Linked DNA regions of Homo sapiens. The protein of the gene in region 3 interacts with the protein of the main gene of each other region in a pairwise test. Each region holds a gene or a part of one and is shown on either strand. Other genes may lie near its edges.

Region 1 (6,984 bases), on a different chromosome or scaffold from region 3:
ATTGCTAATAAAGATAAATACTACATGTTCAGAATAAAAGTTACATTTTTCAAATATTGATTACAATGTTTATGTTTTCATTTTAAAAAAAACATGCCTTTTTGGCTGGGGGCAGTGGCTTACGCCTGTAATCCCAACACTTCGGGAGGCTGAGGCGGGCAGATCACTTGAGGTCAGGAGTTCAAGACCAGCCTGGCTAACATGGTGAAACCCCCGTCTCTACTAAAAATACAAAAAACAAAACCAAAAAAAACTATCCGGGCATGGTGCATGTGCCTGTAATCTCAGCATCTTGGGAGGCTGAGGCAGGAGAATCACTTGAACCCAGGAGGCAGAGGATGACAGAGTGCTGAGATCGCGCCACTCTGTACTCCAGCCTTGGGTAAGAGTGAAACTCCTCCATCTCAAAAAAATAAAAAATAAAAACAAAAACATGCCTTTTTCTTATTACATCTCTGTTGCTGACTACGAGGTCTGCTTTGATAGTAAACAAAAGACACTTTACAATAAGGTGACATTTTATTATTTATACAATAAGGAGACTTTTATGTTATTCAAAACACTTTTTTAAATACTGAAAAAGTTGAGTACACCAAAGCCGAAAAATGGCTCTGCTATACACTGCACAGCATTATTTTAGTCCCTGTATTTTGTATCTGTACAGAAAGCATCTTCAAAATGCATTCTAATCACATTGTACACCTTTACCAATTAGTGTCAGTACATAAAATAAAACTGGAGAATACAGCTTGCATTTGCAAATTAACTGACAGTAATTAATTTCACTGGTTCAGTAAATTTAAAATATAGATTCATAGGACTTCTTTGCACATAAAATGAAGCAGCTTTCAAGGTTGTTATGGTCTCATACTGCAAAAAAACCAGTAAGTACATTCACGATCTATGTTAATAAAGTAGTAAATATGTCTTCATTCAGTTTTATTTACATCAATATGTAGTTCAACTAAAAAGTACTTTTAATTGTGATATAGTAGTCTTTTTAACACATACAAAAATGACAATTTTTTATATATAATTTAAGCTCAAAATCACAATTATCTCAAAATATTAATTACAATACAGCCATTTCAGTTAAACATGTTGTGATTTGATTTTTTTTATAAAATGGTAAAATTGTATTATTAAAGTAAGCAATTTGTTTTGAATTGGCTAGAGTACACCCAAGTAGAAAACCTTAAATGTGAAGAGGTGTTTCCTGCCCCCTCCCACCCGAATTTGTATACAGCCACCTAGGCTAGCAAAGAGACAGAAAAGGCCCCAATTTATAAAGATTAAGCCTCTTTTGCTATACTGCTGTGGCTTGTTGGTTCTTCCATAAAAGCTTTACAAGGGTAGTGTCAATAAACTATGCAGTGAAATGCATGCATTAATATACAATATGTCTATGTAAAATGTCAATGTTTACTATTGCACATTAAAAGGTTCACAAAGACTGCAAAAGAAGTCATAAAGAAGCACTTTCTTTACCAGTCGAATATTGTAAATTTGAAAACGACTTGATAATATAATGGGATTTCTTTGAAATCAGATCCCAATTCAAGTTCTTTCTCTGGCTAAAGGAGCTCTGGTTACTTGGCCTTAAGATGTCACTGTTGTGCTGCACATATGGTAGTGAAGTCAGAGATCATTAAAAAAAAAAAAAAAGTCTAGAGACTCTTCATTTTACTAAAATAGCGACCCAAAGTTGTATCACTGCTTAGGAATTTTTCTTAAACTTACAGAAGAGTGAAATATTTCACTAACTGAATTATATGAGCTGAAATGAGAAAAAGAAAATTTATGTGTGTGTGTTTGGCATATGGGAAAATACAAATTCATATAGGTAGAAGTAGAACTTCTTTATAGAGTAGTAAAAGGATTATGCCCCAAAATAACTGAGGTCAAAAGTAATCAATTATGAAATCGTTTAGGAAAAAATAATTTTCATAGATACTTAGAAAACATCCAAAACATAATATCTAGTATCCTTTTACATATAATTCTTAACAAACCATCTGAAAACCTACCACTGTCTTCCTTCAGAATTGCTTATGTTAGTTTAATATTTCTTTTTTGAATAGAAAGACCCTAGTTCATGTTATGGTTTTCTTATATATAGCTGGTTGGGGGAGCCCTTGGGCAGTTATAAAGTGGAAAAAATAAAACTGTATTATTACTTTCAATAAGCAACAGTAATCTTGCAGTAGTTTCACTTTTTTCAAGGTCTTTTGTGGTGGTCTTTAAAATTTACAAACAGAATTTGGTAGATTTACTTCTAATTTTCCACTAGTAAAAAATTTCTTCTTCATATGAAGACAATGTCATTATCCTTAAGCTTCCTTTAGTCCCTACTGAGTACAAAGAGAAACTTGATTGGCTCTTCAAACAAAAACTATCTGTTTATCTGTCAATTACCTTTCTCTTCATTTCAAACAGAAAATAGGCTTGTGTTTTCAAGGATGAAAGTGTATTTGAGGATGTTAAAGAGAAATGCCCAAACATTATAAAGCCGAAGTATTAAGCATTCATTGCATTCCACTGACGCTAGGTGTCATCAAAGCTAAAACCAAATTTTCTAGAGTAAAACTTACATACAACAGTCCTTACTGACCTGAACCAGATGCCTTTTCCACATTCAAGCCAAATAAGAGTCCTCTGAGTGGAAAGACTACAAGTATTGAAAATAAAAATTATTTCAACAATATATTCTGAAAATTAATGACCTTTCTAGCAGATATGGGAGCTGCTTTATGTTGTCTGCCTGAGAGTTTCATCTTGCTTTTCCTATGGACCGTCCAAAAATATTACATAAGATTTCCTGACTAAATAAGAAATATTCTTTAGTAGAGGGTTGGGGAAGGGTAAGAGGAATGGAGAGATACAAAGAAATACAATGTGATTTCTTTTGTCCATTTGTCAAATGCTTTCGTTAAGCTATTAAAAAGGTCAATTGACCTGCATACCTGGGCATTATTTAACCTCATTATTTTAGCTGTGCAAAACAAATGTGCAAAGAAAAACACCTCCTATTTATGTGTGCCTATACATAGACACAAAACCTGAGTCACCATAAAAGTTTTCAATATAAGAAACCTTTTCTTAATATAGGAAAATAACCTTTAAAGAGCCAAAAATATCTTTGTACAATATAAGCAGCTAACTTTAAAACTTCAGTGTACTTAAGTATCACATATTTTATAAGATCCAGCAAAAAAGGGATCATTTACATTTGATAATTTTCTTAACTATAGCTGAGATAACCACATTTTAATTTCTAACATGTATTTTCATTCCCCTGAATTCATTGATTTTTTTTTTAAAGCACATTCAAATAAGTCCTGTTTAATTTCTGACAAACAGTTCCTGCTTGTTTCTAGATATTGAGGACATAGGAGATTTAGGATTGCTAGGCCTATAATTTAGTGCCAAGCCACAATGGAATTCCAAAGTTCAAAACAAAATATATCATTTTATTAAGAGAAACATTATTTGCAAAAGTATTTGTAGACAGAGTTGGGCCAAAGTCTGCATGAAGCTATTGTCTCATTTGCAGGCTCCCTTTCTACTGACTTAACTCTTAAAAACCCTTTCTTTCTCCATGCTCCATTTCCTTATTTTTCAGTAGGCTTCATACCCTTTTCGTACCTGAACCCTGAATTGTCCCAACTGAATGAAGCTCCCTTGCTCATTTGCAGCCACCAGTTAACAATGTCCTCTTATCTACATCTTTTGTTATCTCTTCCTCTTTATGAGCTTAGAACTCTGGGATGACTCCTTGGCCTCTCCTCCTGTGCCACTTAACTACTCATTAGAGGAAAATCTGCTTGAGTGTTCCATTGCCTTATTAGTCACTGATTTAAGGCTCAATTCAGGACATACTTATTCCCTGGGCTACACCTCAGTTGCGAACTGAGGAAAGTTGTTTATAGAAAAATGACTGAAAGTTGCTTCTCGATGCTGCTCCCAGTGGTCCTTGTCATTAATTATGCATTTATGTCAGTTAAGTCACTGACACTTAGGGAGAAGGGAAAGCCATCTGAACCAAAATATTCAGTCTTTGTGGCTGTGATTGGATAGGAGGGCCTTTGAATACTTGTATCAGTAAAGAGATACTGGGCAGGGCCCTTGAATGCTTTTTTTCTCAAGCCTGGTTTGGGAATAAGGTGGAAAATGCATGCAAGAGAGTAAAGGATTAGAGGCATTAGCCAAGGGAACTGTAGTCAATTCCTGACTTTTTATATTATACTTGCCTGAGGATCACCAGAAGGATTTTGTCTTGTGCAGAAGGCTAAAAGCAGAGTCATACTTTCTCTGCCAACAGACTTGTTGCCATGGGAACCAGTGCAGAAAAATGAAAATATGACAAGAAGCCAAGGATTAAATGTAGAAAATTGATAGGGAGTTGATTTCTACATGGCAATTTAAGCATTGAGGATTTAAAGAAACAGGATGTTCCTTATGTGGCCAGATCAATGAAAATGGACAAAATGACTTACCAGTAGCTGGTCCTAGGGGGCTGAGGTGTGGAAAATGGAAGGAGAAAGTAGTAAGCGTGCTGTAGTTTGGATAAGGGGAACTTTGTAAAATCTAATTCCACTCCTGATGAGGTTAAGCTTGCAGCCCAATGTTAAAATTAACTGTAGGATCAAATATACCCTTTGGAAAGGCATGCCCATGCTTAGCTTGATAAAAGCAGCCTGATGTAACAATTTTCTTTTCACCTTTCCAAAACCAGCACATACTACTCGACAAGATTATTGCACATCTAGTTTATTATTGCTTGATGTATCTTTTCAATTACTCCAACACACAAAAAAACGAAAAAACCCACCATTTGCAAATCTATGCCTCCCTTCCCCCAATAAGGCAGCTATTGTAAGTACCCTAGAATTAAGTTTCTCATTAAGGAAATAATTATTTTACTTCATGTGATACAAGTCCTCCCTGTGTACCCTTCTCTGTCATTCAGTACTTAATAATAAACTGATCAAACCAGACTGTAGGAGTCCAGGAAAACCTTTAACAAGGATTTGGAGTTTCAGCATAATCTGAGAAGGACCTACATGTTGTATTTTCAAAGGCTCTAAGGAGACTGTACCTGCCGTGTCTCCGAAGCTTTCCTGAAAACCTACAATTAATGTCTCATTCCTATGACTTCAGCTTTGGCCTATTTTGAAATGCAGTTGCTCTAAGGAGATGTAGGAAGGTCACCCTGTAAAGGATTTGATTTAACCCTTCCTGCAGAGCTAGTTTTCAAATAGTAATGGCACACTTCACCTGATGTCCTCTTCTTCCCTCACCCACAAAGGAAAAACTAAAAACATAACGTCCACCTGGGCAATGGGTAGGGCTAGAGGCCAGGAAGTAGGAGACAAGCCATTATAGCATAGTTGTCTTTAGGGTACATCTGAATCCAAATGGTCTGAATAAAATATGCTCTTTGTGCAGTGTTACGTACACTGGACAGATTTCACTAGACATGCTTGTTTTCTTTCTCACTTATGACTTCTGGATCTATTTGTTAGAGTTCATTACTGAAGCCTTTGACAATCTCAATGAGTTCTTGAAATGTCAAAAGCTCGTTAATTTCCTTTATCCCAAGAGTACTTAATTCTGAATCTGAATTCTGAAATCCAATAAAACGCCTGAATGTTCTATCACTTGCTGTTTGATAGTACATGCAGGACCCTAAACAGAGGTTTGAATACTGAGATACTGCTGACACAGAATTCCTTATATCAATATTCTAGTGACTTTTAGGATTGGAGACTTGTGGGCTTGGTTTTTGCAGTAGGAAGCATTAGAATAACCTGATGCAGGACTAATTGAAGCTACATAAAGCATTGCTTTTTCCTAAAGGCAGGTAGGCAGATCTCTTTCTCCGATAGGCAAATAAAACATAATAGGGTCTTCACGAGCAGCTATGCCTTTGAATTTAACATATGATAGAGACTGCTGCTTTTCATTTCTAATATGGTCTCTTTAAAATCAGGTAGCTGATGCCTGGAGGAAGACTAGCTGGTCAGGATTAAACTAAAAATGATTAGCTTTTTCTGTGACCTGGCACTGATCTTCTCACTGGTAGATCATACCTTGGACAAACGAGCTCCTCCACACAGAAAGGCCACCAGATACTACTGTATTTAATGGTTTTACTACATCTATGCATTCTTCTGGTAAGAATCTAAAATAGTTTAAAAAATCTCATAGGGTATTGAGAATTTAAATTTGGCTCCTTAAAAATTTTGAAACAATTTGATTAATCCTCTCAACTTTCTATGAGGTTGTACAAATGATTATTTGCTATATCATGTACCTTAAAGAGTTAATAGACATAACTTCTGTAGTTTTCCTTAGTTTATCATATAGCTCAGTCACAAAAGGACCAATATCCCTCATTTTAGAATATTTATTGCTTTCTACTACCACAAGTATTTGGAATTTTAAAAAAAGACTTTTAAGTAGAATAATGATGTCTGTGTAGTAGGCATTATGCTTTACAGAACTGATCTTTTTTAAAAGGTGGCTTCTCCATGTTGACAACTGAATATACAAAGATACAGAGCTTTTTTTTCAATACCTTTCAACCTGGATCTCCAGTAATATGCCCAAACTGGTACTTGAAGGTCAGGAGTCCTTTGATTAAGTATTTAAAGGCACAATCTCCATTTTCAAATGTAAGCATGCTGCACAATCCATCACATATTTTTAATCAATTCACATTTTCTAAGTTGATGCGCAATGACACTAAGTTTCTACAAGGAAAAACCAAACACTTCATCACAAAATGGCAGCTAATTTTCCAGACCATAACTGAATTCATACACTTTTTGAACTCAACTTTATTATACAGTCGCTGTTCTACATCTAGGCTAATCCTGAGTGAAAAATCTTTGATTTTAACCTCAAAGAGCAAGCAAAAACTCTGGGATTTTGTTGGAAATAAAGCCATATGGACTATTAATATTCTCTTGCTGGTGTAAT
Region 2 (5,256 bases), on a different chromosome or scaffold from region 3:
CGCCTCCCGGGTTCAAGCTATTTTCATGCCTCGGCCTCAAGAGTAGCTGGGATTACAGGTGTGCGCCATCATGCCTGGCTAATTTTTGTATTTTTAGTAGAGATGGGGTTTGATCATGTTGGCCAGGCTGGTCTCAAACTCCTGACCTCAAGTGGTCTGCCCACCTCGGCCTACCAAAGTGCCAGGATTATAGGCATGAGCCACTGCACCTGGCCCACGTTGTGCTTTCTTGAAGTCAGACTATATATCTAAACCCTAACCCCATATAAGATTGTTTGTAAGCACGCTGTGTTTTCTTGAAGTCAGACTGTAGAGCCAGGATGAATTAATTGTCCATAATGCCATACATGGCCCTATCCACAGCCACATGCTTTCTGCTTATCTATTGCATAGGATTATATGTGGGAAAATGGATCGAGAAGCTTAAAGTATGATAATCCTTTGATATTTGGTACTCAGTGATCTCTCTGACCTTCTTAAGTGGAGCATACTCAGGAAGCTGGCTCCTTCTAGTTTTATTGGGTTCTCAGAATGTTCAAAGTATCCACCTCACACCCCGCGCAGAAATCCTCCCTTTGCAGCCAGGATTATGACTTTACAGAGGGAAAAAGATATGGCAGCTACTAGTGGCCAGTGTACAGGCCCCAGAAGATGGCAGAAGTTGTTCTAATGCTTGTTGAGGATATTGTAAGGTCAAAGAAGCAACGCCAACAATCCCACCGTTGTCACACCCCTGCTGCAGCCCCCTTTAGGACACCATAGAAATTCTACACAGTAACACGGGGATGACAAGAGGCCACATACTCCATGCTGGGGCATAAAGTGGGCACGACAATTTTTCACTCCTTGGTCTGAGTAAGCGAGCTTTGTGGCATCAAATCATTATGTTTGTATGTTTGGAAGGCCACGCCATCTATCCTCCCACCCAGGGCAGGAATTTCTGCTCCCACTTTTGCTTTCCTGGAGGTGAAATAGGAAGAACAAGGACCCATGCTCAAGTCCCCAAAGAATGGCAGGATGCCCTCAGTGGAGGCAGACTGTATTTAAATGCAATTCACCTCTTTGGGGTCTAGGAAAAGCCACCCGTAGGTTCATTTGCTGGGAAACACGGTCTGCGTGCCTGAGGCAGTGGACACCAGGGTTGTGGCCTTGCCAAGAGCTGACTTTCTCCGGAGGTCTGTCTGCTGTCCGGAGTGGCAGCCACTTCGGTGGGCAAATAGGACGGTCATCTCTGGGCCCAAGGACGCTGCTTCAGGCTGGGACGCCTTGAGGGTGGCTGGCTGTTCAGGCTTTCCGGAGGTGGGATGGGAGGTGTAATGTTTGGTGGGAGGAGGGCTGTAATTCTGAAATCTCACGGTTTTGACTTGCTGCAAGAGAAAGGAGAGGAAATGGACACAGGTGAGGTGGGAGATGTCTATTTCCCCATGCTTGTCCCCACTTGAAATGTCTCATTTATGTGTTCATTCTGCAAATATCTGTGGCTACCATGAGTGTCAAGTGCTAAGATGGGGGAAGTACAAGATGCTGAGAATGCAGAGGAGCATCTAACTTCAGCTGGAAGTGGAGAAGCCAGGGAAGTCTTCCCAGAAGCTTTAAATTGAGAACCACAAAAGGATTAGGACTTATCTGGGAGAAATAGGGTAGGCCGCCGCCTATAAAAACAGCCTGAGGCAAGAGGGTATGATCCCTTCTGGAAGATTAAAGAAATTTACCTTGCCTCTCTCCTCTCTACGTACTATTAAGGCCAATCTCAAGTTTTTCCTTTTCTTTGAGGCCACTCTCCTGATGACTCCATTTAGAGATTTCCATAATGGCCTTATAAATCCTTAGAGCACAGTTTGCAAACTGGACACCTGCTGGCTGAATTTAGCCTGCAGAATGTTTGAGGGTTTGATCGACTCGCCAACACATAAAAATTGGGAGATTGCATATAAAAATCAGAATTTCATATGTCTCTTAAAAAAAAAATCAAAGCTCTGACGCACTGGGCCTATGGCTCATTCTGACAACAGCTGGCTGGACCTGAGAAGCAGTGCCCCCTTTATATGAGATGCAAGGTCTCCAGTTTATGCCAATTCCCCCTCTTCCTCTTTCCTTTCACATCTCCTAGCCTGTTATATATCTGCTAGGCACCCATAGGTACAGTATTTGCTTTAGCCAGTCTCTATCTCAGGGCCTAATAAAGCGTTCTGTGGTACTGCTCAGGAATGATGTCTTTCTTCCATGTAATGCAACCCTAGTATCCCCCACTAAGATCTGAGTTTCTTCATACGTTCTGATCCTCCTAATATCTAGCCAAGGTCTGGGCATTTATGAAATGCTTATAGTTGTATCTAAAAGCTTGGAGTAATGGGCAACTGGGGCCTAGAAAACTCTGAATTATTTCTATAATTCAGAATAAGAACTCCCAACCTTTATATATGTCAGTGCTTTTTCCAATACCTTTCCCTATGAGCTGATAGCTTAGCAGTAAGAGCATGAGTTTTGCATCAGATCTGGATTCTACTCCACACGTATGTGTCAACTGTGCGGTCTTGGGTAATGTTCTTTAACTCCCTGAGCTGCCATTTCCTAATTTTAAAATGAGGATGAAACTAATGCCTATTTGAGAGGGTTGTTGTCAGGATTAAATATATGGGACACATGAAGTACTCAGCACAGTGCCTGCCAGCTTGTTAGTATTCGATAACTGGTTAACCAATGGGGGAATCGCATCCTCTTTCCGTTCTGAGGGGAATGGACGATGATGGTGGAATGATGCTGATGGCGGTGGTGATGGAGGTGGTGATGGCGATGATGTGATGATGGTGATGTTCATAAATTAAGACAGCAATAAGCATCACCTAACTTTCTTACTGTCCTCTCTTCCCACTATTCCTCCTGCTTCAAGGATATTATTGAGAACATAAGCCTTTTACAAAAACTCTCACGTCTTCTAGTGGGAAATATCCTGGACTAGAAGTTAACAGATCTGACGTCTGCCACAGAGGTCACAATAAGGTAGTTGGAGTCATTATCATTCAGTGTGACCTCGATGTCACTTACATTATCCTGTGCCTCAGTTGCCCCTTTTATACAATGCATAATTATGTGTCAAACCCTATGTAAGCACTTCACATATCTCGTTTAATCTCCACTCCATTACTGTGTGGCCATTACTCTTTCTACCTCCATTTTACAGATTATGCAAACTAAGTGACTCAGAAGGGTGAAGTATTTTGACCAAAGTCACCCAGCTAGCAAGCAGCAAAGCTAGAATTCAAAGCAAGATTCATCTAATGCCAAAGTCATGCTTTTTTTTCAAGCCACTTTTGGGCCTCAAAAGATGTATAAAATATTCAGGAAACATAAAGGCGAATCAGTAACACATGTAGGGAGGGCGTGGGTGATGTTGGGGATGTTGGCCATGGCTCAGTGGGGAGTTGGGGAGGAGGAGTGTTATGTGTGAGGATTCTTTCGAGGCTGCAATTTTGGTTCCTTGTTCACCAACACTAAAATCTCTGAGCTGAGACACTATGCATAGTACGGGATCGAAAGAGTTGGGCCCCCAATGTCACTCTGATCCTACCTTTTCGATGCCATTTCTTGAGTTTTCTGGTTTCACCAGGATGGATGGTGGGGCAGATGCGGGCGGTTTTGGCAGAGGCTCACTCTTGATGGGGATTTCTTTGTCTTCCATAATGAGGGAGCTGGCCGCGGAGTGGATCCAGGCCTCACTGCCCCTGCTGATGCACGTGAGGGCGGGCTCCCCCGTGAGGGCAGGCTTGGACCCCATCTCCACCACCACGGCTGAGGGGGAGGAGGGGATCCCCTGTGGCTGGTAGAATTGGAACTGCTGAGGCCGAAGGACCATGGTGGGGCTGCGTCTGAGGGAGCCTACCACGAGAGTGGGGATCCCGGACTGGAGGGGTCTCTGCAGGGATCCATCTGGGGAATTATAGGACAGAGAGATCAGCAGCAGGGGCGGCTGGCAGTAGGTTGGGTGGGGCTGGGTAAGCAGTGCTTCCTGATATCCCAGAATAGACAAGCGCTTTCCTAATCTGACTGCACTCACATTCTCTCCGGGTCTTTCAAAGGTGACCTTATTCTTTTTTTAGTGCTGTTTGCTGATGCTGGCAGCAAATATCTCTCTGGCTGAATGGTGTGTGTGAGTGTGTATGTGTGTATGTGTGTAGGGGGGCTGTCAGAAGGTATATTGCTTCCATTTGCCTTGTGATACACACACACACACGCACACACACACGTACACACACACACGCGCGCGTGAAGCAGACACAGAGGCAGTCAGACCAAATAGGAAACACATGACAGAATCAGAGATAGGAAATAGAAGACATTGAGAAACACAAAGGAGAGGCAACCGAGAAGAATGAGAGAGAGGAAAAGGAGAAAGAGAGGAGGAGAGAGGAAAACTCTGCCCAGCGACTTGCTGTGAAAATCTTGACAGAAGCTTTAGGCATGTGGCAGGTGGGGGTTGCTTTTTGTCGGGGGCTGCAGGGAGAAAGGGTGAGTGGCAAGGGCTAGGCAAGCACAACAGCAGACAAAGGCAAATTTGGAAAGGTTATTCCACAGTTAGGGCTGTGAGGATGGGCTTTGCAATGTCTCATGACAGAGGATCTGGAATCAGACCTCCTCCTGGAAAGCCTGGGATGAGTTAAGTCACGTCACCTCTCTGCACCTCAGTTCTCTCGTTTGTAAGCTGGAGATAATAACAGTACATCATTGGGCTGCTGTGAGGATTGCATTCTATTTGGTGTGCAAAGTATCAGGATAGTGCCTGGAATATGATAAATGCCGCATGTCTGTTAGCTATCATTATTTTTGGGTAAAGGATCACATATCCTAAAAATGCAAGGTCCAAGAGCTTGGTTTTGTCCCTTCCTGAGCTCATTGTTTTTCTTTTCCTTTTTTTTTTTTTTTTAAATTGAGATGGTCCTGTCTCAGGAAAAGGTCATTTCTTCCCCTCAAATTCTCTGGAAGGCAGGAGATCCCCATCCATTGGACATATATCCTGTAGGTGACCTGGGGAATCAGGAGTTCATTGCATTCTGTGGGGAAGTGGAGGAGACACCCATGAGAAACACACTGGGCCATTTCTCCATAGGGGCCCCTCAGCATTTAGAGAAGCTGTAGGTTTTGTCCCAGCCAGCGTTGTTAGTCCTTTGTGACACTCCAAGGACTTGAGTTTGAATCAAAGTCATTTGTGTCCAGCACAGAGGGTCTGAGCCAAGGCCACGTCTGCATCGTGACTTCTTA
Region 3 (4,252 bases):
CAAAACCAAAGAGCAGCTGGCTATCCTTAAATCCTTTTTTTTACAGTGCCAGTGGGCACGGCGTGAGGATTACCAAAAGTTAGAACAGATCACTGGTTTACCTCGGCCTGAGATCATTCAGTGGTTTGGTGACACACGCTATGCCTTGAAGCATGGGCAACTAAAGTGGTTTCGGGACAACGCAGTACCTGGTGCCCCTAGTTTCCAAGACCCAGCAATTCCTACACCACCACCATCAACCCGCTCCTTGAACGAAAGGGCTGAGACACCACCTCTGCCGATCCCTCCACCCCCACCGGATATACAACCCTTGGAGAGGTACTGGGCAGCCCACCAACAGCTACGGGAAACTGATATCCCTCAATTGAGTCAGGCATCAAGGCTTAGCACCCAGCAGGTGCTGGATTGGTTTGACTCTCGATTACCTCAGCCAGCTGAGGTGGTAGTTTGTCTAGATGAAGAAGAGGAAGAGGAGGAGGAAGAACTGCCAGAAGATGATGAGGAAGAGGAGGAGGAGGAGGAGGAAGATGATGATGATGATGATGATGATGTGATCATACAAGACTGAGTGGGGAGCTGGGGGAGGGGAGGTCTGTTACTGAAAGATGAACCAACTTAGTAACTGTTTAAACAAAGAAACCACATTTTTAAAATTACCTTGTGGCAGAGAACTAAAAAGCTTTGTGTTCTTCAGGGTGGGTGGCAGGGGGATATAGTGAGGGTGGACCAGGGAGAATGACCATAGGGCACTAAGTAAGGCTGGGATTGGATCAGCAGAAATCCAACCCTCTAACCTTAGGGTAGGGAGTGCTAAGGATCTGGGGAAACCATGGGCTGGGAAGCTGCTCTTGCTCTCCTCGTGTCTGCTGTTTTTTTCCCTTGGTGTACTATACAGAGGCCAGATGTTGGCACCACCTCTCCAGGAGGATTGGAAAGGAGGAGTAAAGGATTCTGATTTGATTGATGATTCCAGTGCATCCCCAATCCCACCATCTTACCTGGAATATAAGGCTGCCTTGTACCCCTTTTCTGAGCACAAGTCTGTGCGTAATGCAACTGACTCTCTTACTTTTTTCTTAGTAACTGATCATTTCCTAGACAACCAAGATTCTCAATAAGTCCCAGTCTCATCACAAATATTAATATTTCCTTTTCCTCATACCAACTTGACTATGTTTCACCCGCTTCATGACTAAATCACAGGTGGCAGAATTTTTCAGTTCTTTTTTTTTTTTTTGAGGTGGAGTCTTGCTCTGTCGCCCAGGCTGTAGTGCAATGGCGCAATCTCAGCTCACTGCAAGCTCCGCCTCCCAGGTTCATGCCATTCTCCTGCCTCAGCCTCCCGAGTAGCTGGGACTACAGGCACCTGCCACCACACCCGGCTACTTTTTTATATTTTTAGTAGAGACGGGTTTCATCATGTTAGCCAGGATGGTCTTGATCTCCTGACCTCATGATCCGCCCACCTTGGCCTCCCAAAGTGCTGGGATTATAGGCATGAGCCACCGTGCCCGGCTATTTTCAGTTCTTATGCTGTGACCACTTTGCCTTGTAGCTTTTTCTATCTTTCCAAAATCCTCACTCTGTTCATTGTTTGTCTCAGGGAAAATCTTCCCCCACCGAGCTTGTAAAAAACTTTAATAATTGGGTGGAGAATAATTTAGAATGGATATTTATTGGAGGTGGTAATTAGGGAAGATGTCCTTTTAAACAGTAGAATTGTGTTACAAAGGGGTGAAAGAGAGGGAATAGTTTCTCCTTGTTGAAGGGCAGTGAAGGTAGGTTTCAGGTTTGGTTTTACAAACCTGTTAACTACCTCCTGTCCAGCTTGACAGAGACTAATTTTTCATCTTTTTGCTGTCAATTTGTTTCCAGAAAAGAGACTTTTCCCTCTCTTGATAGGATCTGTCTTAGGGACAGAGGGACCATCGTCTTTAAGTGAATTAATTATTGATGTTTTAGAATGGTTTTCATCAGTTGGGATCAGCTATATGGCAAATAGGTATCATCAATGAGTTAACCATCTAAAAATAAAAGAGTGGAAGCCCTAAAATGCTAGAATAATAATAAAAAGGCCAAAAATAAAATTGTTTCTCTCTCAACCACTTTGCCACTCCTATGGTTTAGGGATTAATGGAACCAAATCCATTAACATTCTAACTCAGCATACTTTTAACTTATTGTTTGGAGGGGCAGGACTTATTGAGGTAAATTAAAAGAACAAAAACTGTAAAAAGGAAGTAGTTCAGCATCTATCGCCAGCCAGGTTGTTTCTCAGCCATCAAATGATAATGACTAAAATTTCTGAGGCTTCAGGAGTAACAGAGATACAACAGTCTTGGAGGTAACTCCATTTGCTACAGGACAGGCCCTTGCCTAAAAGAGAAGGTATCTAGAAATGCCTTTAAAATAAATTCAGAGTACCAGAAAGGGTATGGGGATCCTAGTTCAGATACAAGATCATTCCCAAGACCTAATTTATTTCTGGCAGATGCCTGCTATTTTCTGTTTTTCCAGTATTTTTGCTTAAGGCCAGCTTGTGAGTGGCTAACCTATTTAATTCGTCATTTCTGCCTTTTAAAACCCAAAGTAGAATACATGTTTGATCTCAGTGATAGTGTTGTTCGCCCATTCCACCATTCTAGAGCTTGTAAAAGTGATAGAATTGTAGCAATAAAAGGGCATCGTCTTTATTTTACTATCTATATACTAAGCTGAAAATCAGTGTCTCCAACAGTTGTTTTCAATAGAAAGGAAAATTAACATTTAATAGTAACTAAGCATAGAGGAAATAATAGACAAATAAAAAAGTATAATAAGGAAAAGAACAGAGATATTGCTCGTTAACATTGGCAATGGGACAGTATATCCAAAGCTAAAAATGAAATCCAGAAATGAAACAGTGATGAGTATATGATCCATCACAATCCCCATTCCCAACTCCCAACCAAGCATGATGCCAAGAATTATTTTTTTGACCTTTGTTCCAAATTGTAGGAAATGAGGGGAGCTACCAGTGTCTTCTGGAAGAGATATAAACATCTTCCTGAAGCACTAGCCTTTTGTAAGACCTGACCACTGTCCTGGGAGGTGATAAGGGTGAATAGGGTAAAGATGGGGGGAGCATAAGGTACAGAGTGAAACTAGGAAACAATGCAGGGATACATTTTCCAGGGCCATCACCCCTAATGCGTACTGGAAGCTACAGTCCATCCTTCAGCAGCATGTATAGATCAGATCTTGAAGATGATCTATCTAGAAGTGGTCCATGCTTCTCTCCCACTGGGTAATCCCATATGCCTCCGTTGTTGGTAGAGAGTCTGCAGCAGAGGACAAGAAGGTAGATGTGGGTGTTTATAACAGCAAAAAGGGCAAGCAAGTCTCTCTGACCTGTTGTATGAAGCTTATCGAGACAGACACCACTGCTTTTGCTTCCCCATAGTTTTCTTCATTGCATGATAACTAACTTTTCCAAACTAGGATTTGCTACATCTAGTGTGACAATCTCTGGAACATTTCAGTAGCTTATGGTGATAATAATAAGGATGAATATTTGAAAATTAAACTATTTTGGAAAATCTGGGACATATGACTACCACACCCAGAGATGACTACCAGGGAGGCAGAGTTCTTAGGCCTCTGAGGAGGTGGCATTTCCTTCAATAACTTTAAAATTTTTTCACATTTTCGGTTGTTTGTTTGTTTGTTTGTTTGTTGTTTTTTTGAGATGGAGTCTCGCTCTGTCACCCAGGCTGGAGTGCAGTGGTGCATCTCCGCTTACTGCAAGCTCCGCCTCCCGGGTTCACGCCATTCTCCTGCCTCAGCCTCCCACGTAGCTGGGACTACAGGCGCCCGCCACCATGCCCGGCTAATTTTTTGTACTTTTTTTAGTATAGACGGGGTTTCACCATGTTAGCCAGGATGGTCTCGATCTCCTGACCTCATAATCCGCCCGCCTCGGCCTCCCAAAGTGCTGGGATTACAGGCATGAGCCACCACGCCTGGCCCACATTTTCAAAAAATACATAGAATAGTATAATGAACTCATGTGCCCATTGTCCATCTTTAACAAATAATTAATGGCCAATCTTTTATTTCTACTCTCCCAGTGTCCCTCCCTACTAAATTACACTGATGCAAACGCCAGACATCATTTGACTTTCCATCCATAAATACTTTAGTATGTACCTATAAAAGAGAAAGGCTATTTTTAAAAACATAACTACGATATCATCATACCAAAAAACTCTCC

The links. Proteins that work in one complex are often made in the same cells at the same time.
Region 1: the proteins of HOMEZ (region 3) and LRRC7 interact in a two-hybrid assay, tested with the Homo sapiens proteins (2 studies listed by BioGRID).
Region 2: the proteins of HOMEZ (region 3) and SH3RF2 interact in a two-hybrid assay, tested with the Homo sapiens proteins (2 studies listed by BioGRID).

Annotation. Positions count from the first base shown.
Region 1 is NC_000001.11:70,137,881-70,144,864, reverse strand, and holds the end of LRRC7 (leucine-rich repeat-containing protein 7), read right to left. Parts: 3' UTR 501-6,984; downstream 1-500.
Region 2 is NC_000005.10:146,058,537-146,063,792, reverse strand, and holds the end of SH3RF2 (E3 ubiquitin-protein ligase SH3RF2), read right to left. Parts: intron 3,928-5,256; coding exon 3,569-3,927; intron 1,368-3,568; coding exon 1,092-1,367; 3' UTR 501-1,091; downstream 1-500. UniProt on the Homo sapiens protein: Has E3 ubiquitin-protein ligase activity. Acts as an anti-apoptotic regulator of the JNK pathway by ubiquitinating and promoting the degradation of SH3RF1, a scaffold protein that is required for pro-apoptotic JNK activation.
Region 3 is NC_000014.9:23,271,891-23,276,142, reverse strand, and holds the end of HOMEZ (homeobox and leucine zipper protein Homez), read left to right. Parts: coding exon 1-568; 3' UTR 569-3,251; coding exon of another isoform or gene 3,252-3,320; 3' UTR 3,321-3,721; downstream 3,722-4,252. Other genes in the region: E3 ubiquitin-protein ligase RNF212B, read right to left, coding at 3,252-3,320. UniProt on the Homo sapiens protein: May function as a transcriptional regulator.